2 separate regions of the Homo sapiens genome follow, and region 1 is linked to region 2. A link means that fine-mapping ties the variant in region 2 to the expression of a gene that starts in the linked region. Tissue or cell type: whole blood. Region 2 holds a variant in brackets; the other region holds the start of a gene. All regions are shown on one strand. Distances are between the middles of the regions.

Region 1 (2,843 bases), 74 kb after region 2:
TCTTGGCTCACTGCAACCTCCACCTCCCGGGTTCAAGCGATTCTCCTGAGTAGCAGAGATTACAGGCGCGTGCCACTACGCCCAGCTGATTTTTGTATTTTTAGTAGAGATGGGGTTTCACCATGTTGGCCAGGATGATCTCGATCTCCTGACCTCGTGATCCGCCCGCCTAGGCCTCCCAAAGTACTGGGTTTATAGGCGTGAGCCACCGCGCCCGGCCGGCCCTTTCAACACTATCTTCACCTCTCCTTTGTCTTACAGTGCAACAGTCTCCTAACAGGTCTAACTACTTCCACCCTTCTCTATCCAGCAGGCAGAGCGGATTTTTAAAAATGTAAATCAGGTCAGGTCACTTCCCTTCTTAAAACCCTTAAGGTACACATTAGCCAAACCCCTGCCTTGGGCTAAAAGGCGCTGCTACAGTCATGCCACTTCCCCAACTACATCACAGGGCACTCCGGCCCTGGCTCTGTTTGCTTCAGCCACATGGCCTTCTGGCTGTTTCCAACCTAAAAGTCCTTCTCATTGGCTCTTCTCTCCACCCAGAAAACCCATTGTCTCGGATCCCCGCAAAACCGTGGCCTCCTTTGAACGACCTTACCCGATTTCGAGGGGCCCTCCCCCCATCTTCTGTCACCTCATCCGGTCTTTGGGGGGCATTTCTCACTTGCTGATACCTTCTTTATTGATTTACTTAACTCTCTCCTGCACACGAATGGAAGGTAACGGAGCAACACCCTACTCTCAGGTTTGAAGAGCAAGAGAATTACGAAGCTGGCTCTCACGGTCCTAGGGAGTCTCCGTTCCTGTACGGGACCTGGTGTGGGTCAACGTTCCCCAGCCAGACACCTCTCGCCCCCGGACCGGCCCCTACCATCTCCCATTTACATTCGGGGGTCCAAAAGATTCACAGCCTCCGAGGGGGCCCCACGCCGGCACCTGAGCGTCCCCACACCAGGCCTCCCCTCTTGGACGCGCGAGCCACTTCCGTGAGGCAGGTCCCCGAGGCCGGTGGCGATGACACCGAGCCGCCCCCGCGAAGCTGGGGTCACACAGGCCCGTCTCCCGGCAACGCCGCAGCCCAACCTCCAAACCATCCCTGCCCGTGGGGAGCCAACCCCTTCCCCGCCAGTCTCCCGCGCCTGGAGTCGGCGCCTCCATCCCCTACACTCACTCTGCGTCAGTCCTGCCTTCCCCCACCCACAGAAGCGCGCAGCCCGCGGCGGGCTGGGAGGAGGCGGCGCCAGGAGCCCAGCAGAGCCGTGGCCGACCGAGCACAGGCTGGTCCAGTAGGCCAGGCCGGACCAAACCACCGGGCCCACCTCTGTGGGAGCACCAGTTCCAGGTCTGGGGGAGTCTCGACTGACTGACTCTACCCATCTCCCGCCGCATCCAACAATAAGCTGAGCTCCTCCTCCCCCTATTTTTCCTTTACGCTTTCATTATCCTCCCCGCTCCATTCCCGTAAAACAAGAAAAAAAAATGGTCCAGCCCAGCTCCCTCCGGGTTGCTAGGTCTTTGCCCTTACTTGGCGACGGCTTCGTACGTCTTTATGTGCGTCGTGACGCAATCTTCCACTCGTTCCCTCCTTGCCCCTCTCCCATTCTCCCTCCTGGAGCTGGCGGCCGGCGGGGTTACCGGAAGTGATGATGCAGGAGGCGATGGAGGGGGCGGGGCTTCGGGGCGGCCGCCGCCGGTGGGCCGCAGATGAAGAGGAGGCGGTGGCAGTGGTGGAAGAAGAGGCGGCGGCGGCGGGGGTAGGGAGCCTGGAAACGCGAGCGGGGATGGTAGGTGGTTTGGACCCGCCGGGCCGCCGTCGTTTCCAGAAAGGGTTTGACTGGAGGAACCTCTGGAGCAGCTGTGAGTTTTGGGGAGGGGGGGAGTTGAGGAAAAGGCGGGGGGGCATTGAGAGATGAAGGGGCGGGGGTTGGGTACCTTCGAGAAAGGGGGGTGGAAAGGGAGGAGTGGAAGTCAGCGCGTTGTCTGGAGTGGTACCTCTGAAAGAAGAGGCTGTGAGGGGAGCCTGTGGCGTGTCAGCCGCAGGGCTCAGAAAACTTACCTACTGTCCCTGCCTCCCCACCGCCAGCACCCCTCAACCCAGGGCCTGGGGATATGGGGTTGGAGCTGCCCTGGAGGGGGTGCAGACTCTGGTCCTCTGTCCTGGGTGAGCGCTGTGAGGTAGGAGCCCTAGGGGGAGGTGGTGGGTGAATCTCCCAGCTCCCTCCGCCCTCATTTCCCTCCCCACCCCCATCGTTCTCTTTAATCATTAACAGCCCTGGAATTAAGGGGCTCAGACCTGAAGGCCTTTTTGTGCACCTTTGCTATAAACGATAACCATCTGTGTCCGAGGTAATGAGGCTGGAGGCTTTGCCTGTATCCTCTATAGGAAGTGGGACGGGGTGACAAATGTATTGTTTGTTCCTCCACCACACCCCCCGCACTTCTCACCCCTCATCCTCCCCCATGCACACCCCTGGTTTCCACTTTAATTCTCTGTGGCTGAGTGGCAATAGTGGATTTTTTTTTCTTCCCCTTTCCTCCTTTATGGCACTTAGTGCCTTGGTTACCTCTTTTGAATTTGGTGTTCAGCCTCTATCCCAGATCTTAACTGTAAGCTTTGTAATACTTCATACAGGCTGTCACGTTGGGAGTACCTCTTACGCTCCGATTATAATGAGCATTTTCTTTTATGAATACTGGAATTCCAGAGCCTTTGCAAGGAATCCTGAATGGCATCATAGCCCAGGAATCAAGGTCTCTTGCTCGAAATACTTTATGTGTGAGGAATTTACATGTTGTCAGCTCTTCCCAAAATGATTTGCTAGGCTAATTCTGGATTTCTG
Region 2 (2,500 bases):
AATAACTGTGTTGAAAAACCTATGAGATAATCACTAGGAAACGAATCTGTACCCAGGACCATGTCAAAATCATTAGTACATATTTTCTGCTTATGTCATAGGTTGGAGAATCATTTCAATTCTTGTCTACTTTGCCATTTTCAGTGCTGACCCTGGATTTCTCCCACCTCTCTCCTTGCTAGGTAGCGGTTATGCAAAGAGAACTGACAGCTCTTCAACCTCAACTCATCCTCACCTCCGAGGAAACTGCCAAGATGATGGTGAAAATTGAAGCGGAGACGAGAGAAGCTGATGGAAAGAAACTTCTGGTGCAGGCAGATGAAAAAGAAGCCAATGTTGCTGCTGCCATTGCCCAAGGAATCAAGGTAGAAAGACTGAGAAGAAAGGGAGGGAACTGGTGCTGCCGAATGAGCGTGGTTATACCCATCTTACGGATGAGAAAAGTGAGGCTCAGAAAGGGTAGGCAAGGCTGGGCATGGTGGCTCACAGCTGTAATCCCAGCACTTTGGGAGACCAAGGGAGGTGGATCACCTGAGGTTAGGAGTTCAAGACCAGCCTGACCAACATAAAGAAACCTCATCTCTACTTTAAAAAAAAAAAAAAAAAAAAAAACTAGCCAGGTGTGGTGGCGTGCATCTGTAATCCGAGCTACTCAGGAAGCTGAGGCAGGGGAATTGCTTGAACCTGGGAGGCAGAGGTCGCAGTGAGCTGAGATTGCACCACTGCACTCCAGCCTGGGCGGCAAGAGTGAAACTCTAAAAAAATAATAATAATAATAAGGGGTAGGCGACTCTCCCAGCATCACATAGCTGATAAGTGATGAAGGAAGTTGTTCTGAAACATCGCTGAAACCAGGAAGCATTAAGACCCAACATATGGGCAGGTGTGGTGGCTCACACCTGTGATCCCAGATTTTTGGGAGACAAAGGCAGGAGGATCGCCAGAGCCTCGGAGTTTAAGACCAGCCTGGGAAACGTAGCAAGATTCTGTCTCTACAAAAAAAAAAAAAAAAAAAAAA[C/AAAAC]ACTATAAAACAGCCAGGTGTAGTGGCACACCCATGTAGTCCCAGCTACTCAGGAGGCTGATGTGGGAGGATTGCTTGAGCCCAGGAGTTTGAGGCTGTAGTGAACTAGGATCGTGCCACTGCAATCCATAGCTCACTGCAGCCTTGAACACTTGGACTCAAGTGATCCTCCCACCTCAGCCTCCCGAGTAGCTGACCAAGACCTTGTGTTGTCTAAAAAACAAAACAAAACAAAACAAAGTGGCCAGGGGCAGTGGCTCATGCCTGTAATCCCAGTACTTTGGGAGGCTGAGTGGGTGGATTGCTTGAGTCCTGGAGTTCAAGACCAGCCAAGTTCAAGACCAGCCTGGGCAACATGGCAAACCCCATCTCTACAAAAAATGTAAAAAAAAATTAGCCAGCTGTGGTGGCATGCACCTATGGTCCCGGCTACTCAGGAGACTGAGGTGGGAGGGTCCTGAGCCCAGGAGGTCGAGGCTACAGTGGGTCCAGGTCGCACCACTGCACTCCAGCCTGGGTGACAGAGCAAGACCCAGTCTCAAAAACAAACAAACAAAAAGACCCAATATGTTTTGACCTCATGTTTTACCACTTTTCCTTCATTCCCTGTACTCTGGCCATGTTGGTCTCCTAGCTATTTGTTAAATAATCATAAGCCGCACTCCCACCCCAGAGCCTAAGAACTGGCTGTTCCCTCTACACAGAATGCCCTTCCTTTTGATATCCACATGGCTGTTTCCTTCGTCTCCATTGTATTTTTGCTAAATTATGCCTGGCGTGTTGTAGGCGTGGAATAAATATTTGTTGGATGACAGAATGTGGAACCTAGAGGAAACCCGCTTGAAGGTGATTCTTGTGCCAGAGAGGAAATAGTCCTGGTAAGGGCTTGACCTACGTTCACGTAGTAGAAGAAAATCTACTTCTTCAATTAGCACTGATGTGATGTTGTATATTTCACAAAGCACTTTGAAGTACATGGTTACATTTGAGCATTACAACTACTTTGAGACTTCAGAATGACAGATAGGGCCGGGAAAGGTGGCTCATGCCTGTAATCCCAGCACTTCAGGAGGCCAAGGTGGGCAGATCACTTGAGGTCAGGTGTTTGAGAACAGCCTTGCCAACATGACAAAACCTTATCTCTACTAAAAATACAAAAATTAGCTGGGTGTGGTGGCACATGCTTGTAATCCCAGCTACTCAGGAGGCTGAGGTGGGAGAATTTCTTGAACCCGAGAGGTAGAGGTTACAGTGCGTTGAGATCGCACCAATGCACTCCAGCCTCAGTGACAGAGCAAGACCTTATCTCAAAAAGAAAAAAAAAAGAATGACAGACATGGGCATATGAGAGTTGACAGCATTGAGGTTCAGTGGTAAATTGACTTTCCAGAGCTGCATGGTTAGTGGGATTAGAAGCCAAGGTTCATGGCACTTACCTTAACATACTTGAACCTATGCCCCCACTTAACAGAAAATTCTCTC

Evidence for each region. PIP is the estimated chance that this variant, and not a neighbour inherited with it, causes the effect.
Region 1: LYRM1 starts here. The variant in region 2 is fine-mapped to the expression of LYRM1 in whole blood (INTERVAL, PIP above 0.99).

What each region holds. Positions count from the first base shown.
Region 1 is chr16:20,899,221-20,902,063 of GRCh38, reverse strand. It overlaps LYRM1 (LYR motif containing 1), which reads right to left and starts at 1,293. Exons shown (of 4, transcript NM_001128302.3): 1 at 1,175-1,293. It overlaps DCUN1D3 (defective in cullin neddylation 1 domain containing 3), which reads left to right and starts at 1,706. Exons shown (of 3, transcript NM_173475.4): 1 at 1,706-1,860. RefSeq lists enhancers at 316-1,101, 1,102-1,887, 2,097-2,146.
Region 2 is chr16:20,973,098-20,975,597 of GRCh38, reverse strand. It overlaps DNAH3 (dynein axonemal heavy chain 3), which reads left to right. Exons shown (of 62, transcript NM_001347886.2): 51 at 183-365. Among named protein-coding and RNA genes, the nearest start is that of LYRM1, 74 kb to the right of the region's middle. RefSeq lists an enhancer at 1,376-1,876. The variant C/AAAAC (reference allele first, on the strand shown) is at 1,019.